Regions from separate parts of the Homo sapiens genome. Here regions 1, 2, 4, 5 and 6 are each reported to be linked to region 3. The links are microRNA targets in miRTarBase. Many come from high-throughput screens and were not tested one by one. Region 3 holds a microRNA gene; each other region holds the end of a gene's coding sequence. Distances are from middle to middle.
Evidence for each region. Region 3 holds the annotated microRNA hsa-miR-6736-3p (UCAGCUCCUCUCUACCCACAG, at 2,499-2,519, shown strand). A microRNA usually pairs through its seed, bases 2 to 8, with sites in the 3' UTR of a target mRNA and lowers its output. Matches are read on the target gene's strand: a 7mer-m8 pairs with bases 2 to 8, a 7mer-A1 pairs with bases 2 to 7 and ends in A, and an 8mer does both.

Region 1: miRTarBase lists ANKRD50 as a target of hsa-miR-6736-3p. Seed matches in the 3' UTR shown: 7mer-m8 at 1,994-2,000 and 7mer-m8 at 1,285-1,291.
Region 2: miRTarBase lists WIPF3 as a target of hsa-miR-6736-3p. Seed matches in the 3' UTR shown: 7mer-A1 at 2,511-2,517.
Region 4: the mRNA of IGSF6 is a reported target of hsa-miR-6736-3p. Seed matches in the 3' UTR shown: 7mer-A1 at 2,190-2,196.
Region 5: miRTarBase lists SNAP47 as a target of hsa-miR-6736-3p. The part of its 3' UTR that is shown has no 7-base or 8-base seed match.
Region 6: the mRNA of SYAP1 is a reported target of hsa-miR-6736-3p. Seed matches in the 3' UTR shown: 7mer-A1 at 3,531-3,537 and 7mer-A1 at 3,069-3,075.

Annotation. Positions count from the first base shown.
Region 1 is chr4:124,664,898-124,669,971 of GRCh38, forward strand. ANKRD50 (ankyrin repeat domain containing 50) reads right to left here. Exons shown (of 5, transcript NM_020337.3): 4 at 4,087-5,074; 5 at 1-2,617. The coding sequence ends at 4,090. Among named protein-coding and RNA genes, the nearest start is that of ANKRD50, 45 kb to the right of the region's middle.
Region 2 is chr7:29,914,100-29,919,173 of GRCh38, reverse strand. It overlaps WIPF3 (WAS/WASL interacting protein family member 3), which reads right to left. Exons shown (of 9, transcript NM_001080529.3): 9 at 2,113-4,681. The coding sequence ends at 4,658. Among named protein-coding and RNA genes, the nearest start is that of FKBP14-AS1, 72 kb to the left of the region's middle.
Region 3 is chr1:145,848,032-145,853,105 of GRCh38, reverse strand. MIR6736 (microRNA 6736) reads left to right here and starts at 2,461; the gene lies at 2,461-2,519. NUDT17 (nudix hydrolase 17) reads right to left here. Exons shown (of 8, transcript NM_001012758.3): 7 at 4,842-4,994; 8 at 4,152-4,729. The coding sequence ends at 4,627. PIAS3 (protein inhibitor of activated STAT 3) reads left to right here. Exons shown (of 14, transcript NM_006099.3): 10 at 1,953-2,086; 11 at 2,167-2,335; 12 at 2,520-2,653; 13 at 2,837-2,874; 14 at 3,394-4,584. The coding sequence ends at 3,660. RefSeq lists an enhancer at 2,226-3,425.
Region 4 is chr16:21,637,128-21,642,201 of GRCh38, reverse strand. It overlaps IGSF6 (immunoglobulin superfamily member 6), which reads left to right. Exons shown (of 6, transcript NM_005849.4): 6 at 609-2,652. The coding sequence ends at 668. All of the region lies in intron 4 of METTL9 (methyltransferase 9, His-X-His N1(pi)-histidine), which reads right to left. It also overlaps the pseudogene RNU6-1005P. Among named protein-coding and RNA genes, the nearest start is that of IGSF6, 13 kb to the left of the region's middle.
Region 5 is chr1:227,780,326-227,785,399 of GRCh38, reverse strand. It overlaps SNAP47 (synaptosome associated protein 47), which reads right to left. Exons shown (of 5, transcript NM_053052.4): 5 at 4,174-4,873. The coding sequence ends at 4,727. Among named protein-coding and RNA genes, the nearest start is that of PRSS38, 33 kb to the left of the region's middle.
Region 6 is chrX:16,759,618-16,764,691 of GRCh38, reverse strand. It overlaps SYAP1 (synapse associated protein 1), which reads right to left. Exons shown (of 9, transcript NM_032796.4): 9 at 1-4,460. The coding sequence ends at 4,333. Among named protein-coding and RNA genes, the nearest start is that of TXLNG, 24 kb to the left of the region's middle.

The DNA.
Region 1 (5,074 bases), not on the chromosome of region 3:
TTCATTACTGTATTTTTATCACTTTCCTTATTATAAACTCATGATATTTAGGGAATAGACACAGACGGAATGTTATAAAAATGTTATAAGCACATGCCATCATAGTTGTGTAGTGGCAACAGCTGATTTATAAAATTTAAAGATTTTAATTTCAAAAATATCTATTAAGGAGTTTTATATTTGGAGGACAATTTTTACTTTTTAATGGAGCAGAAGCCATTTTCATTTATAGTATTAAATCCCCCACAGAAACAAATAAGCAAGGCAGGGCATCTCCAGCACCCATCCTATCATCCTTATCCTAACTCAAAGTCATTTATGTTCTATTCCAAAACATAATTTATATAAAAACATCCCGAGGAATACTTACTTTTGAAAATCGTATTTTTCCAATAGGTTCTCTTCCTACCAATTGCTTCAAGTGTATATAGTATGGATATGAAAACAGTTAGCTCTTTGAAAAACATAAATCCCTTATGCAATGTCATATCTTCGCCCTTTGGACACAAGGTGCAATTTTGTAAAAACAATAAAATTAAATAAATACAATTTCAATAATTCAAAGTTAATAGAAAAACTGGCAGCTTTCAGGGTTCTCTTTCTAAAGAAAATTACATGTAATAGAAATTAGAGCTTCATCCTCTACAGTAATGTAAATGTACTGTATTTGAGATATGAGTAAAGTTGGTTCTAATAATAGTATGTGTTCATATTTATTAATAGACTCATTAACACTTTTAAGGCTACTTTGCAAGAGTCCCATTAATTTTATTTAATAAATGTCCCATAGGGACAAGAATTCAATACTTGAAACATTCACATTTGAGTTATTAATATTGCCATGTCACCTTAATATCAATTGAACTTATCAACTTATCTCGTAGTCCTCACTATGACTTATAGATGACAGACAAAATGAGTTTTGCTGACTTTAAAAAATAAAAGCAAGAAAAGCCTTACAATAAGATTCAAGTGAAACATTTATCATAATTATACATTTCTATTTCCACGAACAATGTATCACATGTGTCCTTCATATATGAAGATGACATTACTGACCTTTGTTATTAGGACATATTCTAAAGATTTTGTTCTAGAAGTAGCAATGGTTTTGTGCTGAATCTCCAAATTCTCTTTCCTCATTCCTCATCAACAGTACATGAAAAGAACAGAATTTCTGGGTTCTATAAGATTAACAGGCCCATTCTAAGATCAAATCCACAACCTTGGCTTCTAAACTGTTATGACAACTTTTCCAGACATATAAACGACCCATCTAAGCTACAGCTCCACTGATTTAAGAGTAAGGAGACTAAGGCTGTGGGACACATGCTCATTTGAACCAATTTTACCTTCCTTGTCATGAATTTCTCTCTTAACCCTGGCATCCAGCCCTCCTGCATGCAATTGTACAAAGAAGAAAACAGGAAAGAGTATGAGGATAGAAAAGTGCAAATCCATCACTATTAAGTAACAATAAAAAGTACACATGTGCTATGATTGACAGGGGAGTGGTGTCATCTGTGAAGGGCAGCACATTTTATATTCATCCAGAATATTCATCCAACCAAACCATTAAAATTAATCCAATTGATTTTGAGTGGGGCTATTTTGGTCATGCAGCAATTTACAAAATAGAAACCGCTGAGAGAGAAGCCAGCAAAATTAATTTATTTAGCCAGGAGGAAGAGGTCAGTTTAGTCAATGAATTATTCAGGGATCAAAAATCTACCCTTAGATAGACAGGTGCATTTCTCTCTGCACACACATGTGACTGAGGCATGGCTTTGTCCCTGAGAATTTTCATGCCTCAGGAATGATAGTCTGTCTTCTTAGAGGTGGAATGACAAAGTGAATGGAAGATGAAATTGTATCCCAGCGGATGAAATAGGACTTTGTTCTGCCTACAGACTGGTTGGTTGTTTGTTCTGACATGTTTAGCCAGAGATGAGAAGAATTCTACTGGGAAAATCCAGATTTAAACTACTTAAAGCAGCTCCCTAAACTACTATAAAATATTTTTTTTAAACTGCCAAGAAATCATTTTTTCATTTCAATGTGATATTTATATAGAAAATGATTTTTATCCAATGCTGAAGGTGTAGTGAACATAGAACAGTTGCAAGATTTGTTTTATTGAGCAACGTCTTTAAAGATACAAGAAACAGGCCATACACTACAATGCAATGTGACTGAAACAGTATGTTTAAGTTTCTTTTGCCACAAAAAGAAAAAAAAATAAATACAAGGAACACTGCCTTTTCATATATATTTGATTATGGCACATGCACATTTTTTATCACATCTTAACTTAAAATACTCAAATTTTCTTTTCAGCTTTTATCAGGGAACTGCAGTATGTATCTGCATTTTTAAAAAGTGCTTATTCCTGTGTAGTGAATACAAAGCACACAAAATGAAATTTTTTAAGCACAGAGGGTTACATTGAGAAGGCAGCCTTACTATTTAGGCACATTACAGTAATTAAGGTAACTGTACTGCAGAGATCACATTCTTCATTTTTTTTGTTTTTTCAGCAAATCAACAGGCATATGTTTCCATCCAGTAGCTGAAGAACCACTCCATCACAATGTCTTCTGTTTCACAGAATAGGAAACTAATGCAAAAGTTAAAAAAAAATTATTTTCTACATTGTATTATACAGCTACATATCATTTTAAAACTTTATTTAATACATTTACCTCTATATATCTTTATCTATATATTTACCATGCAAAGCACAAAGCAGACTTAACTATTATTTAACTTATAAGCCACTTTTTAAATTCCACAAAATGTTTACCTTAATTCTGGTGTTTCATTTTTAATACGTATTTATATTTTGCCTTTAAAACAGATATCATGAGAGTTGAAAGGGTGCACCATCAGAACTAATTATTTTAAAAACGAATTGCATTTGGGGACTGAATTAAGTACTTTATTCAAATTATTTTTGAATGACATTTGGTCACCCCTAGATTCACATTGAAGGCTGTTTATTATTAGAATATATGAGGAATTTATCTATAATAGTGTTTCACCTATTATATCCCTAAAATATATTTACAAAGACAGAAGCAGCAAAAAGGAAAGAGTATATATAACTTTGTTAGAGGAAGAAAAATCATTAAGCAAAGTGGGATAAATATAGCTGCAGTGTATGCTAGGAAAGACCCCTAATAAAATCTTCAGATTTATCTCCAATACAGGAAATGAGCTTCTGAAAAAGTATCTAAAATATAAAACTTACATACCTATTTTCCCACTAACATCCCCTATATTATTAATGAAGTATCCTTTGTTACAGGAAGGAGAAAAAAAAATTTATTTAACAAATATGACTATTTTATCCAGGTATAAAGTGCCCTAAATACCAATATTGCAAAAACATCCATTTATCATTTTTCACGTCTATGCCTTATGTGTGAAAACATTACTTAGAAGAGTCTCAAGAGATCTGTCATCATAAAAACTACCTTCTACTAAGTTTTTGACTTCTTTCTGAGTGAAAAGGAATGAAATTAATATTTACTATCTACTATGTGCTACAGACATTATTGCATTCAAACCAAAAAGATGAGTTTGAAACAGCCCCTCCCTCTGACACCATCAAAATTCTTTTAAAAGGAGGACATAACTGAATAGGAAAGAATTCTTAATCTGGGATCCATAAGTAGTATATTCATTCATTCATTCATTAGTTCATTCACTTATTCAACAAATTTTTACTGGGAAACTACCATAGGTCCAAGCACTATTCCAAGTACATGAAATACAGTAGTGAACAGATAGAAAACCCTACCCTCACAAAGGTTGTATTTTTAGTTCAGAGGAGAAAAATAATAAAGAAAACATCTGAAGTATTTTAAATAGTAAGTGCTTTGGATAACATAATGCACGCAAGGGGGAAAGGAGTGCTAGAGGCAGGAGAATTCTGATGTAAAGGGGTGATGAGGCAGGTCTGGCCCAGATGACATCTGAGTAGAGATTAACTGAGGGAATTGGCCTTGTGATCAAGGAAAAGAGCATTCCAAGTAGAGGGAACTCTACTTTTGTTTTTTACTCTTTATGTTGACAAAATATTACCTTTTATAATGGTGTTTCCTTTTTATAGTTGAAGCTAGGGTCAGAACCTTCAATCTGAAGCTTCAGAGCTTGTTTAAGGCTTAATTCTGTCTCTGAGGAAGGGTATCCCTCCAACACTTCCTGATGCCCTCTATCTTGCATTGTTCGTGGGACTGAAACCCTACCAAGAAAAACCTGGTTGCTCTGAAGATGATAATTTGGATTTGTCATTATTCCATTTCTCTTCTTCTGTTCCCCACTTTGTTGGTGAATAAGAAACTGCTGTTGAGATCGACCAATTTCCTGCTGAGCTGAAGGTATCATAATTTTGCATTGAGATTCTGCTGGCATTTGTTTAGGTGGTGCAGCAGTCCCGGATTTGGCTATAGGTCCTCTTCTATCAAACTGAGTCATTTCATATTCTAAAACCTTTGGCTGTGAAGAATTACTTTGTTTCGCTTTTTTCCCAGCTGATCCAGACTTGGCAGAATTTTCTGATTTCCCCCCTTTACTTGCTTTAGTTGACTTCAAACTGGGCTTTACTTGACTCCACTCAAATTCACTACTTGGTGAATTATGACTCTGTCCTAAGGACTGTGTTGTGGAAGATGGGGAAACAATTGACTGTCGACTTCTACTGCGTGGCAATGAATGCTGCTGAATTTGTTCTGTAAATGACAAGTTATGAAAGCTATCAATTGGCACTGTTTGAGCCGTTGCTGTAGATGAAGTAGTTCTCAAAGATGAATTTTTTGAGCTTTTCAGGGAATTATTTGACAGTGATGACTTCTGCCGGTCAACTGTAGAATCTGGAGATTCTGAAGGAGAACTAAAAGCATGAGTAGGCCCATTAGGTAAACCACGTAACGAAGGCTGCATATCCCCTCCACCAGTACTACCAGAGCTATTTGATTTAATTGTTAATGACTGCACTTTTGAAGACAATGACTGTAGAGGTTTTTGCTCCATTGTGTGAACAGGAGATGGGGAACAGCCATTCAAACTAGAT
Region 2 (5,074 bases), not on the chromosome of region 3:
TATTAGAATGGAAGTCTAGATCATCAGAGTGGCTGGTACTCTGTGCCAGACATCTTGATTCCAAGGCATCAGCAATGCCACAACAGGAGAGGATGCCACTTAGGGAAAAAGCCAGCTCTCTTCACTCCTGTGACCCAGAAATGCCAGCTTGCTTTCCATGACTCTCCACTGTGACAGGTAAAACGCAACTGAATGTCTTGCTCGTGAAGATAGGACTTAGTCACCTGCAATGAATGACCTATTTCAAGGTCAGGGTAGATGACTGCTCTGTTTACATGATAAGGAGCTGCTAATTCTGAAATTTTATTCCCAGCTCTCTTTTCATAAACATTGTACCCTCCTGCAAAGCTCTGGGTGACAAAGCCTGTATTCTTTTGCTGGGGCTGCCGTCACAAAGTACCACAAACTGGGCAGCGTAACCAGGAGAAATTTCCTGGTTCACAGTTCTGGAGCCCAGACGTCCCAGGAATAAGACATCTGCAGGGTTGGTTCCTTCTGAGGGCTGTGAGAAAGAATGTGTTTCATGTCTCTTGCCCACCTTCTGGTGGCTTGCTGGCAATCTTCAGCACTTTGGGACCCATAGAAGCAGCATCCTGATTATCTCTGCCTTCATCTTCATGTGGCGTTCTCCCTGTGTCTATGTCTGTGTCCAATTTCTTCATTTTATAAGGACACCAGTCATATCGCATCAGGGGCCCACCCTAATCCAGTATGACCTCATCTTAACTAACGATATCTGCAATGGGCCTATTTCTAAATAAGGTCACATTCTGAGGTACTGGGGGTTAGGACTTCTTCAACCTATGGATTTTTGTGGGGACACAATTCGACCCATAACAGAATGGGTGGGTGGAGGATGCTGAAGCCTCCCGGGGCACCGTCTGAGAATTTGGAACTTGCTTCTGGAGTCCATGGCCCTTCCCATTAACTTGCTCCCTCTCTAGGAAGCACGTCTCTCACACTTAGCTCCATAAAAGGTGCTTACACTTCTAGCTACTTCACCACGGCCATGCTCAATGTGACTCTGAAGTTCATCATCCACTTTGTAGATTATCTTCGGCCCTTACTTTTTCTTCCCCATTCAGACTGGCCCTTTTGGCCATCAAAGAGCCAATCTGTACCTCCACCAATAAGAGAGCAATAAAACGGCCCCTTAACTAATTCTGATGCAAAGTGTGTAGTAACCAGCTTTGAAATTAGTTTCTAGATGAGATTTATTTCAGGAACATCTATGAATTTTAATGACTGCTCTCTCATTGTTATCCAGCAGCAGAGTTAGTGAAGTGTGGTCTGAGTAGCTCAGCAAATACTGAATGAAGTGCCTGGGATGCAGCCAGCAGAGCCCTGTTTGTGCCCAAGCATGGAACCAGCAAACTGGCTGCTCCCCGGGGTGCAGGGTGTGCATCACTGGCTCCGTTGTGATCCAAGGGTTGAGGGCTTGCCCATGTGTATTACATCATTGAATCTTCACCAATATACACTCGGGTACATATTTATGTCCCCTTTTGACAAATGAGGAAGCTGAGGCACAGATTGTAAGAGGCAACTTGTAAGAGGCAAAATGGAGATTCAGATCCTGGTTTGCCTTCTAAGCACTAGCTCTGAGATAGCTTGCCTAGCAGATAAATCTCACCTCCCCTGAACCCTGTTCCCAAAGGTCCACCTTAAAATACTACAGGGGGATTCAAGATGATTCTGTTCCTACAGGAGGCTTTTTTGGGGGGTTTGCTGAGTTGGGAGTGGGGACTAAGTGCACGTAGAGGGAAGGTTGTTCTATTTCAACACAATTTAGCAGAATTTATAAGCAATACACTGCCCATTCTGTGTTAATCAAACTGAATAAATATAGTGTTATCTACTTTTTAAAAAATGCACCTGAGAAATTTTTTTTTTCTTGCTTGTTTTTTCCAAATACCAATTAGGCTAGTTAGCTCAAGAAAGAAAGGCCCTGTTTCTAACACAGTATGTTACAGCAAGCACCGTATCCATGTAAATATCTATTTTTTTTCTATCATTCTTAGAACTTCAACTTCTCCTGATCCTTAAAAATGTTTGGTTTAGATTGATACTGGTGACCACCGATGGGTTTTAACAAGGAAACGACTGGAAGCATTTCCACTTACTAAAGTTTATTAAGTACAAAGAAATGAATCTGCGGAAGGAGACATCAATAAATATAAAATACACGTGAAACATTGGAGGAGTCACAGACTGCAGTGTCAGTGAGAATATGTGACAATGGCGGGGACTGTGTGACTCAGATGTCTCTAAGTCTGAGTTTACAGTCAAGGGGTTAAACCTTTACAGCGCCCAAGGGACTCAGTGCACCAGCATGAGCTCGAAGGGTTGTGAATTCAGTGATAGGTCTCAAGGGGAGATGGGATGCCACATTCCTGAGATTTCTCCCTAATTGCCATTTTTGGTTTCTGCTCCTTCCTCCCCTCTGTCCTTTTTTTTTTTTGAGTTAGGGTCTCGCTCTGTTGCCCAGGCTAGAGTGCAGTGGTGCCATCTCAGCTCACTGCAACCTCCACCTCCAGGGTTCAAGCAATTCTTGTGCCTGAACCTCCCAAGTTGCTGGGATTACAGGTGTGAGCCACCATGCCTGGCTAATTTTTTGTATTTGAGTAGACAGGGTTTCACCATGTTGGCCAGGCTGGTCTTGAACTCCTAACCTCAAGTAATCCACCCACCTCAGCCTCCCATGCTGGGATTACCTGCATGAGCCACTGCTCCTGGCCCGCTCTGTCCTTAAATAGTGTTATTTTAATTTCCATCCCAGCCATAGGAGACACGAATGTCTAAACACCTCATTAGGGCAGGCAGTCTACTCTGAAGGTGGAATTGCCTTTGTCTAGGGTCTTCTTAATCAGGATCATTAAAACTTCTATAATTATTTTACACAACTGTGAGGGCAGTGGAGTGGACACTGTTATAATAATAAATTCTGGCTTTTTGGAAATCTTCCAGAACCAATAAAACAAATTAGTTATGCCCAGAGCTGATGACCTGCAAAAACTTCTACTTATTTAGCTGTTACAGTTTGGGCTTGATTCATTCCCCTGGAGAAGGGAATTTGACCCTGGCTCACTTGCTTCCATCTGGAATGAGAAAGCACAGCACTGCTGCAGGACACCACCTGAGTCGTTACTCCAGACAACAGTGAGGCAGATGCAGTCATGTTTGCCCACACCCTCCTGACCGGCTGCCTTTCTGGATGGCTTGGTCTGTTCATGATATACTTCAGGGGTGAATGTGTGCGTGGGTTGTTGCAAAGCAAATTTCTTTTTCGCTGGTTTCCCTCCCCTCCCTGCCTGATTTCCTTTAAAGGGCAGCTATTTTGAGCACAGCCCAGGGATCAGTCTGTTTCCTTCTATTTTTTCTCCTTCCTCTGTCACAGTCTTCCCCGACCAAAGATGGGGAACATCAGGGGTCAGGCAGCAAGCAAAAACACATTTCCACTCCCTACAGGATCAAGAAGAGGGAGTGAAGAGCAGGACCAGCCCGGCCTGACCTTTTCCATATTCAGAGTGGCTGAGCTTGCACACATCTCCCCACAGACAGGTGCCCACCACAAGGGAATGAATGTGGAGTTGTCAGGCAAGGTTCTCCTTTAGCTCAGAAGGGAGCTAGGTTTTGCCTGACGGGTGGCTCCAAGGATCCTAAGATGGGGGCAGTGAGGCACTAGGTATTTGTGGCAGGTATTTCACACGATGTTTCGTTCTACACTTTTTCATGTCATATTTTCCATGGAAGTCCACACTCGAAGCAAGGGCAGAAGGGGAGACCTCTGAGATACAACTGGTAGTTTAGCATAATGATGAGTTGTGTATGTTTTTAATCTGTAGGGAAGAAATACCAAAATCTCATAAAGCTGGCTACTGGGATGGGACTGGGAACTTGGAGGGAACAGGATGAAAGTGACAGAGACTTGGGCACGAGGGACACTGTAAACAGTAGGAGCACTGGCTACTTGGAGGATTATTCAGTTACAAAAGGGGCCCTGTGGTTGGCATCGGAGGGCCAAGCCCACTCTTGCCTTTACTTTGTGATGTATTACATTAGGCAGCAAAAAAAAAAAAAAAAAAAAAAAAAAAAATTCCCTGTACTGCAAAATGGAAGCGAGACATGGCACCTCGTTCCCTGGAGGCTGCGCGGCACTGTCTGGGTGTGGGGGACACGCTACTTCCTCTGAGCTGCATCATTGATAAGGCATTATTTGGTTTGATTTTGCAGTTAGTGTGATGAGAATATGAAATTATGCCAATAAGAAGCCGTTGTGGATATTTATAACTTTGGGGCTACCTGCAAACTAAGGACTCTCTACAAACGGTTCAGAATCTAGGAAGGGCCAGCCTGCAAGCAGATTCACAGTCATGGAGTGGGCACTAGGTGGAGGGACAGGGCTCTATCTGTGCTGACAAATGCCAAGATGCAATGCAAAAAATGGAAAAATGAGGGGTGTTTTAAAAAATATTACCGAAATAAAAGTCAATTAAAATACTGCTTTAAAGCCCGTGCAAATCACATATTTACAATAAATAAATTCTCAATTCCAAGCCTGTATGCCAACTGAATTACAGCTTGAGCATGGGGTGGGTGGGGTCTGACATGTTGTTCTGCAACCTGGAACCCCAGGACCTTCGCTTCATCTGTCTTCTCACCGAAGAGTCTTTAGAGATAACTGTGGAAACATAACAGAACATTACCAGGTGGAGTTAGAAGACTCTTGCACATGAAAGCCTTCCTCCTCCACCCCCCCAAACAGGCTGGGCCCCGAAGCTTCTCATTCATGCAAGGCTGTCAAGTTTGGGGAGATGCCTATGCAAAGAGCTGACTTTTACCCAAGGGGCTGTGGGTGGAAACCAGATGAAATGGGGTATGTAGTTGATGGTATGTGAGGACCTAATACTGTCTTATAAACATTTATAGAACCAATCATCAGCAATTCACTTGACAGGAAGCTCAGAGAAATAAAAAAAACGTGCTGGAGACCCCAAGTTAAGGCAGTGGAAAAGCAAGAAACCGATTTAGGCATTCAGACTTCCAGCCCAGGGCTCCCACCCCATGCACTGAC
Region 3 (5,074 bases):
AGCCACCACCTCCTTCAGGGTTTTTAATTCATATGGCTTACTTCCCCTCACATGAACTGCAATTCTCACCTTATCTATCCCTTTTACCAGTCTGTGTGTGTGTGTGTGTATGTGCATGTGTGTGGAGGGGGAGGGCAACATTAAGGACTTAGTATATACAAGGCATCTTGCTGAGCACTTTGCATGAGTTATCTCATTGAATCCTCACAATAACCCTATGGACTCGGCTCCTACCTGTAATTCCAACACTGGAAGGCTGAGATGGGAAGATCATTTGAGGCTAGGAGTTTGAGACCAGCCTGGGCAACATAGTAGACCCTCTCTCTATAAAAAATTAAAAAAATTAGCCAGGCATGTTATAATAGCTCATGACTGTAGTCTTAGCTGCTCAGGAGGCTGAGGCAGGAGGATGGCTTGAACCCAGGAGTTTGAGGCTGCAGTGAGCTATGATTGCATTACTGCACCCCAGCCTGGGCAACAGATTGAGACCCTGTCTCAAAAAAAGAAATAATCCTATGATTGGCTAGTGACACTCACCCAGAAAAAAAAAAAGAAAAAAAAAAACCCTATGAGATAGGTAGTATCATTACACATGAGGAAACTGAGGCCGAGAGAGATTGAGCCTTGCTCAAGGTTATATTGTTAAGTGGCAGAGCCAGTGTACTGAACTGTCATAATATATCACCTATAACAACTACCTGACTTCCCACTGAGCATTGCAATAAGGTTCTTTTCAGGGCCTGGATGTTCTAATCTTTTGATCTTGCTAGTCTTAACCTCTTTTTGGAATCTACATTATGGTTCCTGTTCCCAGTGCTCCCCCACTTTTTGTTTGTTTGTTTGTTTTTGAGACAGGGTCTCGTTCTGTTGCCCAGACTGGAGTATAGTAGCACAATCATAGCTCACTGCAGCCTCGACCTCCTGGCCTCAAGTGATCCTCCCACCTTGGCCTCCCAAAGTGCTAGGATTGCAGGCATGAGCTACCATGCCTGGCCCCTAGTGCCTTTATTTATTTATTTTTACACAAGTGTTTAGAAAGCCAAAGACCCAGTGCCTTTTGGAGATGGTTTATGGACTTCTGTGTCTCTGCTCCTTTTGTTCCTTATACTACACGTAAGTGCTCAGATTTTTTTTTTTTTTTTTTTTGAGACGGTGTTTCACTCTGTCACCCAGGCTGGAGTGGTATGGCACAGTCTCGTGATCTCAGCTCATGCAACCTCTGCCTCCTGGGTTCAAGCAATTCTCCTGCCTCAGCCTCCTGAGTAGCTGGGATTACAGGCATGTGCCGCCACATCCGGCTAATTTTGTATTTTTGGTAGAGATGGGGTTTCACCATGTTGGCCAGGCTGGTCTCGAACTCCTGACCTCAGGTGATCCACCCACCTCAGTCTCTGAAAGTGTGATTATAGGCGTGAGCCACCACGCCGGCTTTTTTTTTTTTTTTTTTTTTGAGGCAGAGCCTTGCTCTGTTTCCCAGGGTGGAGAACAGTGGTGTGGTCTAGGCTCACTGCAACCTCTGCCTCCTGGGTTCAAGCGATTCTCGTGCCTCAGCCTCCTAAGTAGCTGGGATTATAGGCATGTGCCACCACACCTGGCTAATTTTTGTATTTTTAGTAGAGATGAGGTTTCACCATGTTGGCCAGGCTGGTCTTGAACTCCCAGCCTCAAGTGATTCACCTGCCTGTACCTCCCAAAGTGCTGGGATTAAAGGCGTGAGCCACTGCACCCAGCCTCAGATTGTATTTATTTTAAAACCTATTACTTACTTTGCAAAGCTCTTTTACATACCTTGTGTTATTTGATTCCAACAACTCAGAGCGGTCCAGTAGGATGGATAATGTTCTTATTTTACAGATGAGGAAACTGAGATACAGGAAGGTGAGTTACAGAACTCTGGCTACTGTTCTGCTCATCTCCCAGCCCCGTGAATTTTCATCTCTCTCTTCCCCCAGTTTATTTATGGAGATTCTTAGTTCCTGTTCAGATTGTGATGAGATCCAATTCATGGAAGATGGATCCTGGTGCCCAATGAAACCCAAGAAGGAGGCATCTGAGGTTTGCCCCCCGCCAGGGTATGGGCTGGATGGTGAGTGACCCCCTGTTCCCCAGCTAAGCTAAATCTTGGATGGCCTCTTCTCTGAGACGTAGTCTTCTTAATACCCACAGGCCTCCAGTACAGCCCAGTCCAGGGGGGAGATCCATCAGAGAATAAGAAGAAGGTCGAAGTTATTGACTTGACAATAGAAAGCTCATCAGATGAGGAGGATCTGCCCCCTACCAAGAAGCACTGTTCTGTCACCTCAGCTGCCATCCCGGCCCTACCTGGAAGCAAAGGGTATGAGAAAATAGGCTGAGTCTACAGCAAAACGGACAGGGGAAGAAGTCAGGATTGCTTTCTGATCATTGGACAAAGCCTGGGGCAAGAGAAATGTGGAGGGGACAGAGAGGGAACCTGGGGACCTGAGCTGGGTGAGGGCATCTGTGGTTTGCTGGCTGCCTCAGCTCCTCTCTACCCACAGAGTCCTGACATCTGGCCACCAGCCATCCTCGGTGCTAAGGAGCCCTGCTATGGGCACGTTGGGTGGGGATTTCCTGTCCAGTCTCCCACTACATGAGTACCCACCTGCCTTCCCACTGGGAGCCGACATCCAAGGTATGACATGGGTCATAAGATGGACCCTGCACTGCCACACCCTCCCCAGAGCTACATCAGAACCCCTGTTCCTTCTCAAAGCCTCCTGCTTCTCCTGCAAGGGGCCACAGTCCACAGTGCTTTGTCTTTTGGTGGTAAAGGGGTCAGATAGGAGGTTAATTTTGATTTTTCTTTTCCTGCCAGGTTTAGATTTATTTTCATTTCTTCAGACAGAGAGTCAGGTAAGTGGTTCTTTCTTCAGAAGGTCTCAGATCTCTGAAGCTTCCTTTCTAGACACTGATGGGGCCCCTCCCTCTCTTATGATCTCTGGGGATGTAAATCTGCTTTCCCGTGAGGGCAGTGGGGTGTAGGTATCTTATTATCTCCTCAGCCCCACTGGTAGTTCCTGAGATTCCTACTTAGGCCTCCTTCCTAGATCCCCTGTTACTTTTCTGCCCTGGCCTACTCACCCCTACCCCCGTGTGCACTTAGAGCACCATGCCTGCTCTAACCGGACATTCCACACATTTCAGACGCCCACAAAGCCAAGAACCTAACAAGTTGGAGGAGCTCTCTCAAGGCAGGGAAAGGGGAAGGGTGTAGGGAAGTAGGGGAAAGAGGGAGAGGCTCTCCTGCTTCTCAAGAGAATACCTTCGGATCCACAGGGGTTGATTGCTCTCATACGGCATTTCTGAGATGAGTGACTGGGAGGTGGGGAAGTCGGGATTGAGATCTTAAACTATGCCCTTGATTCTTCCTAGCACTATGGCCCCTCTGTCATCACCTCACTAGATGAACAGGATGCCCTTGGCCACTTCTTCCAGTACCGAGGGACCCCTTCTCACTTTCTGGGCCCACTGGCCCCCACGCTGGGGAGCTCCCACTGCAGCGCCACTCCGGCGCCCCCTCCTGGCCGTGTCAGCAGCATTGTGGCCCCTGGGGGGGCCTTGAGGGAGGGGCATGGAGGACCCCTGCCCTCAGGTCCCTCTTTGACTGGCTGTCGGTCAGACATCATTTCCCTGGACTGAGTTCCCTGGATTATGGAAACTTCGCTGTCCCCCAACACTGAGCAAGTATGCTGTGGAGTCCCAACCCCAGCTACTCTGATCCCTCTGGGGGCTCTGGCCAAGGGCCAGACAGACCTTCACAGATGCCTACTTTTGGCCTCATCTCTGCCTGACAAGGCCAGCACCCAAAGGGTTAATATTTAACCTCTTTTTAAGGACACTGGGGTCTGTTTCTGGAAATGTTCTTTAGATGGTGGCACATTCCTTTGGGTATGTTAACCTAGGCAGTGGGAGGCAAATGGGATGGTATGTGAGCTAGGAGAAGGGCTGAACCCTCAGCCTTGACTATGTCTAGAGCCTCTTGGGGAAGGGGCACCTCTCTTGAACCCCAAATGCTCTCTCTTCTTATTACCCAAACCCATGGCTCTATTTCTTCTTCACATCCATTGTCTCTTCATGTCTATTCCATTCCCTTCGGCCAAACAGACAGGTGGAAAAACTGAGACAGGCAGTTTCAGAGATGGACAGAGAACTTTATTTTGGATTGTGGATGTGGACTTTTTTGTACATAAATAAGAAAAACCAAAATACTCCAAAGATGACTTCCCCTGCCTCCTACTCCAGTATGACAGAGGAGGATGTAAGGCCTTAGCCATGATCTGCAGGGGTCTGGGAGTCAGGCCCGGCCTATTGCTTGGGTCTCTCTCTATTTATATATCTAAGTTCACAGTGTTTCTTATTCCCCCCTAAGCTTCTAGAGGCTCATGGCCCTGTAGTTAGGCCTGGCTCATTCTGCACCTTTCCAGGGAGGTGGAAGGACCCTGTGCCCTCCTTCCCAATCTTCTTTTTCAGGCTCGCCAAGGCCTAGGACCTATGTTGTAATTTTACTTTTTATTTCTAAAGTTGTAGTGAAGCTCTCACCCATAATAAAGGTTGTGAATGTTCTGTGAGTGTCATGGAGATGGGCTAGGGAGGGGATTTTACACTTCACTTTCCAGACCCCTGGTTTGGGGGAAGAGGGTCCATGTTCCATTCTTCCTTTGCTGGCCCTGGGTCCAGGTAAGCTGCACTTTTACACGGTGGGGGTGTTCTGTGGAGGAATTCCAAGAGAGGTTGTCCTTTCCTGCTTTCCCCCGTGCCTGTAAAAACTAGACCATTCCAGCCCAGTACTGTGGAGCTCTCCAGTCCTTTTTCACTTTTACCTGCCCAGATGTTGCAGCCAGAGCTTGAGGGCAAACTTGGTTCCAGTGCTGACTCTCTCTTTGTCCTCTGCCATGGTTGGGATCATCCGCAGGAGGGTGGACATGTGCAGGACCAGAGGTCGGGCTCTTCCATCCTCCTCTAGTTCCACTGCACTGCATGGTGACAACTCCTGTTGGGGCTGTGCCTTGTAGCTTACAAAGAACTTACATATATGTTAGGTCCCCGAATCCTC
Region 4 (5,074 bases), not on the chromosome of region 3:
TTTTTTAAGTCCAACTTTTACTTTAATTGTTTTCTTTTTAAAAAAATATGGAACGCTTCACGAACTTGTGTGTCATCCTTGCCCAGGGGCCATGCTAATCTTCTCTATATTGTTCCAATTTTAGTGTATGTGCTGCCAAAGCAAGCGCTAAAAATCTAACTTTCACAAAGGATTTTTGCCAAGGAAAGAATATTGTCTAAGTAGTCGTTTCATCCTACAGTGTATATATGAATACATAAAGATAGGTGGTCTAATTACTAAGATGCCATGCTGAGTAATTACAAATCATTTTTCTTTCTGAGGCTGGGACATGTTTTCAACAACAAGGCCGAGGTATGTGGCCTGAAAGCAGTCTTAGAAGTGAGAATTGTAAAGCTCCCAGCCACGATTTTGACAGTAGCATCCAAACAAAAAAAAAAAGTATTTTTCAGTTCCCACATCCTACTCTAAATACGGATGGGGAAAACGGTAATCTGGCCTTTAAGATTACCATATGGACACTTAGGACCCAGAATCCAAGATGGCCCAGTGGTTTGCATGTTCCTTGGCAGTTGGCTTCATTGGTTACATAACCTTAAACATGGCTTTCTATTTATTTATTATTGCAGGAGAAAGATAACAACACTTATGAAAACAGAAGAGTACTTTCCAACTATGAAAGGCCATAGAAACGTTTTAATTTTCAATGAAGTCACTGAAAATCCAACTCCAGGAGCTATGGCAGTGTTAATGAACATATATCATCAGGTCTTAAAAAAAAATAAAGGTAAACTGAAAAGACAACTGGCTACAAAGAAGGATGTCAGAATGTAAGGAAACTATAACTAATAGTCATTACCAAAATACTAAAACCCAACAAAATGCAACTGAAAAATACCTTCCAAATTTGCCAAGAAAAAAAATTCTATTTTAAACTTGTATCCTGAGTCTGTTTCATTCAACATGAGATGTGTGATGACTGCCATCCTGAAGATCTGAAGCCAAACCATGTGCCTCAGTCTTGAGTGGAAGAATCACCTTTATGGTTTGTGGAAATCATGGCACAATTAAAATAAGTTGGGAGGGACAACGTGACAAAATTTGAGTTAGAGACATTCATTTTGAAAAGCACCTTAGTAAAGTTATTTCCTCTGATGTTGTAATGGGGCAGTGGGGTAACGCACATTTGCCTGCCAGGGTATGCAAAGTAACTTACATCATGCTATCAGCAAAATGAGAATAATATAGTGGCTAGAGTAAGACCATAAAAGCCAAAATACAGAAAATCCAAAGCTGAAGGTTAAACAGAGGTAACTTCAGAACAAATAAGCCACAACGGACTCTAGATGTCAGTGTTGTGCCAAATAACAGCACCAGGGAAGATGTGGGCAACACATCTACTTTACAAGCACGTTTGTAATACTGATTTTTTTTCTTTTCTTTTTTTTTTTTTTTTGAGACAGAGTCTCGTTCTGTTGCCCAGGGTGGAGTGCAGTGGTGCAATCTCGGCTCACTACAACCTCCACCTCCCGGGTTCATGCCATTCTTCTGCCTCAGTTTCCCAAGTAGCTGGGATTACAGGTACGCACCACCACGCCCGGCTAATTTTTTTTTTTTTTTTTTTTTGTATTTTTAGTAGAGACGGGGTTTCACCATGTTGGCCAGGCTGGTCTCAAACTCAAGACCTCAGATGATCTGCCTGAAATGGCCTCCCAAAGTGCTGGGATTACAGGCGTGAGCCACCGCGCACAGTCTATAATACTGATTTTTAACCAATTTAGGAGGGAAATGTCAGATAGGAGGCATGGTACAAGGATATTTATGGAATTCATTACCACTTCACTAAGAAAACATGATATAAATTGTCCTTTGAAAGCTACTTTGGTATAAAAAAATCTAAAGTGCCCATAAGTATGCATTCATTATTAGACACAAATTACAACCTTACAACCTACTATGTTTATTTCATTAAAGTGTCTCTTTTAGGCCGGGTGTGGTGGCTCACGCCTGTAATCCCAACACTTTGGGAGGCTGAGGCAGGTGAATCATGAGATCAGGAGTTCGAGACCAGCCTGAACAACATGATGAAACCCGTCTCTACTAAAAATACAAAAAAATTTAGCGGGGTTTGGTGGCACACACCTGTAATCCCAGCTATTTGGGAGGCTGAGGCAGGAGATCACTTGAACCCAGGATGCGGAGGTTGCAGTGAGCTGAGATCACGCCACTGCACCCCAGCCTAGGTGACAGAGCAAGACTGTCTCAAAAATAAATAAATAAATAAATAAATAAATAAAATAAAGTGTTTCTTTTAAACTGGTATTGCCTAAGGTGTATTCTTTATAAAACTTAGAATTGTTAAATATTTTAAGATTCCTTTGAAAGTGTTTTTGCATTGATGGTTTAAATCAGTGATATCAAACTTTCCTGATCCTATGTGCCCAGAAAAATGGGCAGGGGAAAGGAGGCAGCATGGAACCTCATTTTTTTGTGTGTATCTGTGTGTACACGTGAGTGCACATGTGTATATGTGTGGGGCCACATGTGTTTTGTATACGGTATATGCATGAAAATGTACCTTTGTACCTTATACACAAAAACAAATTAAACAATGGCATAAGCAGCAATATAAATAAAAAATGCTAATACTTTCCTGCCATATTCCAAAATAAACTGTCTTGTGTACTCTGCAGTGTGTACTTCCCCACTCTGAGACCACTAGCTCAGGTAAAGTAATGAGCTTCTAAGCCAGACTGCAAAAAAGGGCAAGCACTAATACCATCGAAATGAACAGAAGTGTTGAATTCGATCATTTGCTTTTCATTTCTGGGAGTCATTACATTTTGGTACTGAATTCCAGGACTGAAAATACACTGTTCATTGTCTAACCAGGAGACAAAATCCCTCAGATAAACTAGTATTTGACTCACAATATGCCTTTCCCATGTAAGCAAGGACCGTGTTTCAAAGATTGATTTTGAAGCTGAAATACGGAATATACTTTCGCAAAGAGTTCCATTCCTCTAGGTCTTATATAAGAATATCTGGTGTATACACAGTATTCATTCATTTATTCATCTATCTCACCAAAAGTATATATTTTCAAACTTCAAAATAAGTTTTATTTGGGAAGAGTTTCTTATTTTGTTAAAGCTACAAGCAAGTTTCTTTCCCAATTACACTTCTAGAGATCTTAGCAGTTTCAGAGATTTCAGTGTTCAAAAGTATATTTCAAAATTAACAACAAAACCAAACCCACACCAAAAGGAAATAGCTTTGAGATTAGTTTGGGATGTACAGTCATTGATTTCAGGCGCCAACACTATTTACTGAGTGCTACACTATACAATCAAAGGCCTCTTTTGCAAACTATCCTCGGGTCATACTGAACTTGCTCCACCCCCACACAAACCTTACTCACACCTTCATGCTTTTGCACATGCTGTTCCCCTCAGCCTGGTAAAATGCTTCAGACTACAAACACAGCTCACCTCAACATGAAACCTTCCCTAACTCACCCACAGGCTAACAGATCTATTCGTCTCTAATTCTTCAGTACTTAGTTTGACATATTTCTTACCACAATTTCCTGCCATTATCTGTTTCTATCTATATTGTGTACTATTCTGTGTTTTAAGAGCAAAAGCGTGATTCTCATTTATCTTTATATTTCCACTTGGTACACAGTAGGCCCTCAAATGCCTTCTATAAATGCAATTGAACAATGTTTCTATAGAAAAATGTTCCTTCAGCATTTAAATTGAGATATGTAGCATACTTCAGTCCCTCACCATGAAGCTTCACCCCTTTCCATAAAGACCATTCAACAAACCCCAACAGTACTAATTGTCCTGCTATCTGAGCATCCAGAAAAGAATTAAACTGCAACTTTTTCTTTCTTCTTGAGATGGAGTTTTGCTCTTGACGCTCAGGCTGGAGTACAATGGCGTGATCTCGGCTCACTGCAACCTCTGCCTCCAGGGTTCAAGTGATTCTCCTGCCTCAGCCTCCTGAGTAGCTGGGATTATAGGCATCTGCCACCATGCCTGGCTAATTTTTGTATTTTTAGTAGAGATGGGGTTTCACTCTGTTGGCCAGGCTGGTCTCAAACTCCTGACCTCAGGTGATCTGCCCACCTTGGCCTCCCAAAATGCTAGGATTACAGGCATAAGCCACCGCACCCAGCCTAAGCTGTAACTTTCTGTTTAGATTTGGGTTTCCTATGACAATTAAAAAAGAATTAATACTGAAACAACTTGTTTTACTTCGAGCTGCAAAAACAAATTACCATAGACTGAGTGGCTTATTGAGAGGTGACAATGTGCTAGCAGCCCTCGCTCGCTCTCAGCGCCTCCTCGGCCTCGGTGTCCGCTCTGACCGCACTCAAGGAGCACTTCAGCCCGCCGCTGTGCTGTGGGGACCCCTCTCTGTGGCTGGCCGAGGCCGGACTGGCTCTCTGCTCGCGGGGAAGTGTGGAGGGAGAGGCACGGGCAGGAGCCGGGCTGCGCGCAGCGCACGCGGGCCAGCACAGGTTCCGGGTGTGTACGGGCTCAGCAGGCCCAGCACTCGGTGCCACTGGCTGGTGCCTGCTGGGCTTAATCAGGGGACAAGCTCCCTCTGGGCTGCTGGAGTGCCCAGGCTAGGTGCCACAAAGTCCCGCAGCCAGTGCCATTGAGAGGTGAAGCTGGCTGGGCTTCTGAGTCGGGTGGGGACCTGGAGAACTTTTCTGTCTAGCTAAAGGTTTGTAAATGCACCAATCAGCACTCTGTGTCTACTTAAAGGTTTGTAAACGCACCAATCAGTGCTCTGTGTCTAGCTAATGGTTTATAAATACACCAATCAGCGCTCTGTGTCTAGCTAGCCGGGTAGCAGACTTGGAGAACTTGTGTCTAGCTAAAGGATTCTAAACGCACCAATCAGCACTCTGTGTCTAGCTAAAGGTTTGTAAACACACAAATCAGCGCTCTGTCAAAACGGACGAATCAGTGCTCTGTAAAATGGACCAATCAGCTCTCTGTAAAATGGACCAATCAGCAGGATGTTGGTGGGGCCAGATAAGGGAATAAAAGCAGGCCAACAGAGCCAGCAGCAGCAA
Region 5 (5,074 bases), 82 Mb from region 3:
AGGAGTTCGAGACCAGCCTGATCAACATGGTGAAACCCTGTCTTCCAAAGTGGCTGCACCATTTTGCATTTCCACCAGCAATGGATGCGAGTTCCTGTTGCTCCATGTCCTCCCCAGCAACTGGTGGTGTTAGTGTTTTGGATTCTGCCCATTCTAGCAGGTGTGTAGTTGTACCTCCTTGTTTTAATTTGCAGTTCCCTAATGGCATGCGATGTGAAACATCTCTTCAGATGCTTATTTGCCATCTGTATATCTTTTGGTGAGGTGTTTGTTATGGTCTTTGGGTACCACTTTTACTTGGGTTTTAATTTTTGCTGAGTTTTAAGAGTTCAGAAAAGTTTTTTTTTAGATTTTAGCATTGTTATTAGAGATGGGGGTCTGGCTTGGTTGCCCAGGCTGGTCTCAAACTTATGGCCTCAAAGGATCCTCCCCCGTCTCAGCCCCCTGAGTTGTTGGGAGCCATGCCTGGCTTCAAGAGTTCTTTTTCTATTTTGGATGAAGTCCTGTGTCAGACATCTTTTGCAAATATTTTCTCCCAGTCTGTGGCTTGTCATTTCATTCTCTTGACAGTGTCATTTGCAGAGCATTAAGTTTTAAATTTTAATAAAGTCCAGCTTGTCAATTTATTGTTTCATGGATCATGGCTTTGTTATTATGCTATATCTAAAAAGCCATTACCAAGGGAATGTAAATTAGCCACCAATTAACCACTAGGGAAAACAGTTTGGAGGTTCCTCAAAAAACTAAAAAGAGAGCTACCATATTATCCAACAGTCCCACTGCTGGGTATATACCCAAAAGAAAGGAAGTCAGTATATCAAAGAGGTATCTGCACTCCCATGTTTGTTGCAGCAGTGTTCACAATAGCCAAGATTTGGAAGCAACCCAAGGGTCCATCAACAGACCAATGGATAAGAAAGTATATACACATTCACACAATGGAGCACTATTTGGCCATAAAAAGAATGAGATCCTCTCATTTGCAACAATATAGATGGAACTGGAGATCATTATGTTATAAAGTGAAATAAACCAAATACAGAAAGAGAAACTTCACATGTTCTCACTTCTTTGTGGAAAATTAAAACAATCAAATTCATGGAGATACAGAGTAGAAGGATCGTTACCAGAGGCTGGGAAGGGTAAGTGGAGGTTTGGGGAGGAGGCAAGGATGGTTAATGGGTACAAAAATACAGTTAGAAAGATGAAATATGCCCTTTGATTTGACAGTACAACAGGGTGACTATAGTCAATAAATTGTACATTAAAAATTACTAAAAGAGTATAATTGGATTGTTTGTAAAAAAGCATAGAAACCCTGTCTCTACTAAAAATACAGACATTGCATGTCTGTATCAAAACATCTCATGTGCCCCATAAATACCTATTATGTACCCACAGATATTAACAATTAAATGAGTGAAAAAAATTTATAAGCTATCATCGTACCTAAGGTAACCTACATTTTCTCCTATGATATATTCCAGGACATTTCTAGTTTGCATTTTACTTTTAGGTCTATGATCCCTTTGAATAATTTTTTTTTTTTTTTTGAGACAGAATCTCACCCTGTCACCCAGGCTGGAGTGCAGTGGCGTGATCTTGTCTCACCTCCGCCTCCCAGGTTCAAGCAATTCTCCTGCCTCAGCCTCCCGAGTAGCTGGGATCACAGGTGCTCGCCATCATGCCCAGCTAATTTTGTATTTTTAGTAGAGACAGGGTTTCACCATGTTGGCCAGGCTGGTCTCGAACTCCTGACCTCAAGTGATCCACCTGCCTTGGCTTCCCAAAGTGCTGGGATTACAGGCATGAGCCACCGCGCCCAGCTCCTTTTCATTAATTTCTGTTTAGGGTGTAGGGTCTGTTTGATTTCTTTTGCACATGCGGACATCTAGTTGTCCCAGCACCATTGTGGGACCATTTTCTGCATTGTGGTGCCTTTGAATCTTCTCAGAAGATGAGTTGACTATATTTATATGGGTCTATTTCTGGGTCCCCTAATCTGTTCTATTATTTGTCTCTCCTTTTACCAATAACACACTGGTTTGGTAACTGCAGCTTTGTAGTAAGTCTTCTAGTCAGGTAGCGTCAGTCCTCCAACTCTGCTCCTCTCCTTCAGTATTGAATTGATTATTCTGGGTCTTTTGCCTCTCCATAAAAACTTTAGGATCATCTGTTAATATCCACAAAATAACTTGCAGGGATTTTGATTGAAATTGCATTGAATCTATAGATCAAGCTGGAAGGAACAAACATGTTGAAAATACTGAGTCTTCTTATCCATAAACATGGAATTTTTCTCCATTTATTTGGTTCTTCTTTTGTTCATCAGGGTTTTGTAGTTTTTCTCATATATATAGAAAGAGTACACTTTTTTTAGACTTGTACCTAAGTATTTTATTGTTTGGGGGTGCTAAAGTAGAAGTACTTTGTTTTTAACTTCAAATCCACTCATCCATTGTTGGTATATAGGAAAGTGATTAACTTTTGTATATTTTGAAATCTTGAATAGTTGTTCATTATTCTAGGGGATTTTCTTGATCCCTTTTTACACTTTCTACCTGGAAAATGTCATTTGTGAACAAAGAGAGTTTGTTTCTTCTTTCAGTATCATTAAACTTTAACTTCCTTTTCTTGCCTTGTTCCATCTGTTAGAGCTTAAAGTGCTGAAAGGAGATGGTGAGAGCGGATGTATGGGCCTTGGTCGTGATTTTAGTGGGAAAGTTTCTACATTCTTACTACTGTATATCATGTTAGTTTTGAGGTCCAGTGGACAAGGAATGGTCAAGTGACACAAAAGGCCTCACCTGATATTGCAAGGACTTGCTGACAGTGAGAGGTCAGGGACAGGGGAGACCCCACCCACACTGTGAAGTCCTGAGAACAGCGAGGGGTCAGGGACAGAGGAGACCCCACTCACACTGTGAGGTCCTGAGGACAGGGTGCAGCCTCTTCCAGGCTTGATGGGGGTCTGCACGGTGGCTGCAGGCATGGTGAGCCCTTGCTGCCGGCTCCCAGCACTGACAGGAGGGGGGGCCATGGTGTCCGCATGCCTTGGGCTAGGCTTGAGGGCCAACACTGGCCTCCTTGGGGTGTCCAGACAGGCTGGGAGCACTCACTCACCTGTGGCCTTAGTGGAAGGACCCCAGAGGGGACAGGGCAAGGTCTCCTTCTGCAGGCTGCTAAGTATAAACCAAATAAGAAAAAGCAGAAAACAATTTCCCAGATCAAACAAAAAATAACATCAGAGTGCTGGGTGCAGTGGCTCACGCCTGTAATCTCAGCACTGTGGGAGGCTGAGGCGGGCGGATCACTTGAGGTCGAGAGGTTGAGACCAGGCTGACCAACATGGAGAAACCCCATCTCTACTAAAAATACAAAGTTAGCCAGGTGTGGTGGCGCATGCCTGTAATCCCAGCTACTCGGGAGGCTGAGGCAGGAGAATCGCTTGAACCTGGGAGGCGGAGGTTGTGGTGAGCTGAGATCATGCCATTGCACTCCAGCCTGGGCAACAAGAGTGAAACTCCCTCTCAAAAAAAAAAAAAAAAAAAAAAAATCAGAGCTCCCTGGGCTGTGGCTTTCTAGAGAGGCTGCTTCCCAGTTTTCCTGCCAGGCACCTGCACTGGCTCTGGCGACTGGCATTGCAGCCCCTAGTCCAGCTGGAGCCTCAGAGCAGGACCTCCTGTGGAACTGGGGTCTTAGCAGACATTCTCAGTGAGTGACATCAAGACCAGGCCATCCTGGATTAGGTTGGGCCCTGGACCTGTGGCAGGCGGCCGTGCAGGGTCCTCCCCAGAACCTTTGGAGGGAGCACGCCCAGGATATCTCAACGTGGGGCTTCTGGCTGCAAAGCTGCGAGGGCCCCTGTGTGTGAGGCTCACTGAGCAGCCCTGGGAAGGCAGCACCACTGGGCATTGGGTGCACCAGCGTGGAGGCCCCACAGGCTGGGCCGTGGCACCATCCTGGGACTCGCCTCCCATGTGCCCGCACCCTTCCTTGCAGCCCTGCACGGGGCATCTGAAAGCAGCATGGCAAAGGGGCACCACCCGCAATGTGACGCGCAGTCCCGCCAGAGGCCATGCTCACCTACCCCAGGGCCTCTGAGGGAGTGGCCACTGACCCAGACACAAGGCACCAGGTGGAAACACTGGCACCCATCTTCAAAAACCACTCTGAAGCCAGCATTTCCCTTTATTTCTGGATGGAAACGGGGCCCTAAAAGCAGAAATCAATATTTTTGTTTGAAAGATGCAGTCATGCTAATTTCACTTTTGGCTAAAACCGAGACGATAAAAGAACAGTTGGGTGTTTATAGGATGCCCTCAAAGTGAGCTGGCTAAGTGAGCTGGGCTCTAACTTCACTCACAAATTTATAGTACAGCTAAGAAGGCCAGTCTGTCCATGAAAGGGAGCCGAGACAAGACGAGGGCGGCCTCTTCCAGGCCTGTGCCAAGTGTCCTTGGGGTCCCGCCATGGTCCACACTTCTGCAGCATCCGCAGAACATGTGGCCGGGTCCTGCCCAGCAGCAGGGACAGCCAAGTGGGAGGCAGGCATGGTGCACACCTGGGGAGGCCCCTGGTGCAGAAGCAGCCCCACAGTAGCAGCCCCATCCAGAGGAAGACCACTCCGGAGGGCCACAGGCCTCTGCAGCCCTGGCACTGCCGCCCAGCCCTCCATCTCAGCGGGATGTGCAGGGTGAGACAGGAATGCAGGGACGTTCTGCCCCTAGGTCAGCCTCTTCATCCGCCTGTTGTGCTTGTCGATGGTCAAGGTTGCCCTGTCCACAGCTGCTGCAACGCCATCCAGGGCTTCGTCTTGTCTCTCCAGCTCACTCTCGGCCTCCAGGGCCAGCCCCTTCATCCTCCTCAGGATCTGGGGAGAAGCACAAGATCACAGCAGAGGCTGCCATCTCTGCAAACTCTAGCACAGACAACATCTCCCCCTCTCACACACCCAAGAGCCTTTGCGTTACCACCTGGGTGATGCCATCTGCGAGCCAGCAGGAGGGAGCCGGCAGCCCAGCACCAGGGTCAGGTCATGGCTCTGCCTCTGCCAGTACAGGCCTGATGAGAT
Region 6 (5,074 bases), not on the chromosome of region 3:
ACCACTTTTATTTTTAAAAGTTGAAAAACTGGCTGGGCATGGTGGCTCATGCCTGTAATCCCAGCACTTTGAGAGGCCGAGGTGGGCGGATCACCTGAGGCCAGTCGTTCAAGACCAGCCTGGCCAACATGGTGAAACCCCGTCTCTACTAAAAATACAAAAATTAGCCAGGTGTGGTGGCACACGCCTGTAATCCCAGCTACTCGGGAGGCTGAGGCAGGAGAATCACTTGAACCCAGGAGGCGGAGGTTGCAGTGAGCCGAGGTTGCGGCCACTGCACTCCAGCCAGGGCAACAGAGTGAGCCTCCATCTCAAAAAAAAAAAAAAAGAAAAAAAAAAAAGTTGAAAAACTAAATTTGCTAAAATTAAATGTGCCTAATTTTCCTAATTAAAAAATGTTTATCTTTACTTAAAAATGGAGGGGGGTATCTATTACTAGAAAGAGTAACTATATAAAATTATTTGAATTATTGATGCACATTCAGAGTCCTGGTTTTTAATACCAAAAAGCCATTAAGGTTGGGCGCAGTGGCTCACGCCTGTAATCCCAGCACTTTGGGAGGCCGAGGCGGGCGGATCACCTGAGGTTGGGAGTTCAAGACCAGCCTGACCAACATGGCGAAACCCTGTCTCTACTAAAAATACAAAAATTAGCCGGGTGTGGTGGCACATGCCTATAATCCCAGCTACTAGGGAGGCTGAGGCAGGAGAACTGCCTGAACCCGGGAGCCGGAGGTTTGCAGTGAGCTGAGACTGCGCCATTGCATTCCAGCCCAGGCAACAGTGTGAGACTCTGTCTCAAAAAAAAAAAAAAAAAAAAAGCCGTCAAAGAGGCAAATAAAATACTGCAAGTCAGACATAATCATAAGATTTCTGCTGAAACCTTTTAAATGTCCTGAAATCCTATTTTTAACAATATTTTGATTAAAGCAAATCATCTTGATTACAATAGTGCATCTTAAATCACTGGGAGTACAAGTGTAATTGCTGCTTTATCTCTGAAACAATGTTTCTCTAGTTTTTTTTTCAAAAATTACCAATTAAGGCTGTGGCTCATGCCTGTAATCCCAACACTTTGGGAGGTCAAGGCGTGCGGATCATTTGAGATCAGGAGCTTGAGACCAGCCTGGCCAACACGGTGAAACCCCATCTCTGCTAAAAATACAAAAAAATTAGCTGGGCATGGTGGCGGTTGCCTGTAATCCCAGCTACTCTGGAGGCTGAGGTGGGAGAATCGCTTGAACTTGGGAGGCGGAGGTTGCCGTGAGCTGAGATCAAGCCACTGCACTCCAGCCTGGGTGACAGAGCAAGATTCTGTCTCCAAGAAAAAAAAACAAACAAAAAAAGAAATGCCCGATTTACCAAGAATATTTCTCATCCCCCTAAAAACTTGCCCCCCCTCCCTTTTTTGAAACAGAGTCTCTGTCACCCAGGCTGAAGTGCAGTGGCATGATCATGGCTTACTGCAGCCTGGATCTCCTGGGCTCAAGCGATCCTCCTGCCTCAGCCTTCCAAGTAGCTAGGACCACAGGTGTGGGCTACCACACCTGGCTCATTTGTATTTTTGTAGAGGCAGGGGTCTCCCTATGTTGCCCAGGCTGGTCTTGAACTCCTGAGCTCAAGCAATCTGCCTGCCTCAGCCTCCCAAAGTGCTGGGATTACAGGTGTGAACCACCATGCCCAGCCCTTGGGTCTTTTTAATTTTGGTAGTATAGAAATAACTGGAACCTCAGAGGAGACACCTGTAATGCCAACTAGAAAAACACTGCTGCAAAGGACATCTAGTGGAAGGGTAAAAAGTAAAAAGCAGTAGAAACCTCAGCTTCCCTGAGAGCATATTAGACCAGTGCTTCCCAAACTGTAAATAAAGTCCATTCTCATCCCCTGGGCGTTCTTAGTAACATCAACTGGTCTGGGGCAGGCATTTCCAACATACTGCCAGGGCATGGCCAAGCTACACTGGTTCCTGAGCCACACTCTTTGAGTAGTGAGGCATAATCTCCATAGTGTGATGTTCATATTTTAGCATTTTATTAAGTTTTACAGGTTTTCATGCTTGGTATATCTTGTTGGCTAACCCCTAGGCATGTAATAAATACTTAGAAATTTTCCACCAAACATGGTGATAAATTATTTTGCTCTTTAAAGGAATAACACTTCAGTTACCTATATAATTTACTAAAGCAGAACATTTTACTCCTTGATGAATCCATAAAAATACAGCACAACTGTATTCTTACAGTATGTACAAAATCTTATTTTATCCTTTTATTTTCACAGGCAATGCATAATTAGGTTGTTTTTAAATGAGATATTATGTAAAATTGATAGCAATAACTGTCACACACCTCTATTGCCATTGTAGGGTTTTTCTCTTTCTCTGATACTTTTTTGTGTGTGTTTATTCAACATTTATCAATAAGAATTTTAGTGCATTCACTAAGAGCCAAGCACCGACACATCCTGATATGCTTCCATCTAGGACTTTTAGCTGCTTAAAAACATTTAACATGCTTCTTTTCCTCCAGCAAACTCTTTTAAAAAAAAAATGAAACTCTTTCCTTCAATGAGATTATTTCAGAAGTTGCCAGTCATCTTGGAACCCAAACTCAGTAATAAGCAACTGTGGCACCACAAGTGGAAACCTTTTGATGATGGGCCCAGTGGTTTCATGGAATACACGGGTTTACTGCTATAACCCAAGAGACTCCAGTTGAGACAGTCTGGCTCAGACACATGCATCCACAACTATGAACAGGAGTAATGCCTGGACTCATACCCAGTTCTCTTGTTGACTATATCTTTGCCAAAGGACTACTGACTAGTTTTAATGGGGCCAAGAACACAAATATGTATATTTTTCTTATAAAGAAACATTTTAATTCTATTCCCCTTTATGTAATAAAGGCTTCTTGAAAAACATGAAAGGTTTGGGGAGCAAATGCTTAGGAAGTTTTCTGACATTAAACCACCTTGTTCGTTCGTTCATTCATTCATTCATTCATTCATTCATTTTTGAGACGGAGTCTCTCACTCTGTCACCCAGGCTGGAGTGCAGTGGCGTGATCTCAGCTCACTGCAACCTCCATCTCCCAGGTTCAAGCAATTCTCCTGCCTCAGCCTCCTCACCTTGTTCTTTAAAAATAATCATATTCTATGAATATGTGTCTGCTGGTATAGCAGAAAGAGAAGGATTAATCAATAAAGTCCTAGAAGGTGAACTCGGAGGAACACAATTTTATGAAGACTCACAGTTTAAGACAAAGCTAAAACATTTATATGTGGTGATGATTAAAACAAGAACAACAGACTTTAAGGGGAATGGGCTTCTGAAGGTTATTGTAATACAAAAAGTATGGAAGGTCCCACTTTGTATAAAAACTGTGATGTAAAATTTCTGGTATAGTTTAAAAAGAAAAGAAAGAAAAGGCCCCAGAGAAAAACAAATATTTTCGCACAGCTTTTTTTTTTTTTTTTTTTTGAGACTGAATCTCACTCTATCACCCAGGCTGGAGTGCAGTGGCGCGATCTCAGCTCGCTGCAACCTCTGCCTCCTGGGTTCAAAAGCCTCCCTAGTAGCTGGGATTACAGGTGCCTGCCACCATGCCCGGCTAATTTTTGTATTTTTAGTAGAGACAGGGTTTCACTATGTTGGCAAGGCTGGTCTCGAACTCCTGACCTCCGGTGATCTGCCCACCTCGGCCTCCCAAAGTGCTGGGATTACAGGCCTGAGCCACCACGCATGGCCTGCACAGTATTTCTTAATGTAAAATTGTGTGATGCTTATATCATTAAAATCAACTTATTTATTTTATCTTTTGGCTTTCAGGTGGAATTTTAGAAAATACCTGGCAAGTGAATAGTTCTGAAAGTGCTTCCTCTTAAGTTCTTTGGTATAATTTGGTCATTTTGATAGTAATCAACCCATTAAGTAGGTACTTTAACACCCTCATATCAATTAAAATGGAATGTGGAGTACAGATATTTAGAAAACCATGACTGAGGAATAAATTATATTTTTGACCTCATGGAAAACAGAACTCTAAAATTTTACTTATGTTTCTGTGGCAAAGATAGCCATACTGCCTATGAAGACATCTCTAACTTTATATTAAAGAAATGTTCTATAAAACATCTCTTTCTGATTATTAGAAGTAACTGTTCTATATACTTTTTTAAAGTAGAAGAGGCAAGTTTCAACTTGAAAAAAGAATAATTTTGAATTTCATAAAATTATACTCTTTCATGCCTTCTGATTCAGTAATTGTCAACATCTAGAATTTAATGTCAGTTTGCAGACTGTTAAGGATTATTCTTCTATTTCAGGAACAGCTAATTTTCCTCTTGAAGCATTTTCTCTATTTCCTTATCCCAGTTTTCATCTCGTTTTTCAGATTCTGTCACCACTTCATATTCTTGAAGTTCCTGCTGCAGTTCTTTTTCCCAATCTGCAGAATCCTCTAAAAGAAACAAAGGAGAAGAAAAAGATTCTCTCTGAATTCATAATGCTGGTGTTCACAATTCGGTCCATCTCAATTACCTACGTAAAGTCCTAGCTGCTGTAATTTTTAGTATCTCAGGCTTCACTACTATGTGTGCTCAGAAAAACTCAGTAAATTTTAACAGTGACCAAGGATAAACACAATTAGAAAGATAAATCTGTTAATGTAGAAGCAAAGGTATCAGATGTCATCAATATATTTTGGGTGTTATTTTGCTTTCCCTATGCCTCTGCATTTCCTTTTATTTAAATGGGTAAATGATAATTAATACTTGGTTGCAAGTTAATTTTTACCACTACCAATGATGATGATGGTAGCAAAAGCAGCTAATGTTTATTGAGCACTTACTGGGCTGGGCACTGGCCCAACTGCTTTCTATGTATCACGCTTTTCACCCTTGGAACAGTCCATGGACAAGGTATTACTATTTGCCACATCTTATAGATAGGGAAATGGAGACTTAGGAGAGGTTAAGCAACTTGCCCAAGATCACACCGTTTGACAGCGACAGATATAAGGATGGAACCACATCTGCAGGCTCCACAGTCTATGCTTAACCACTATACAAAGAG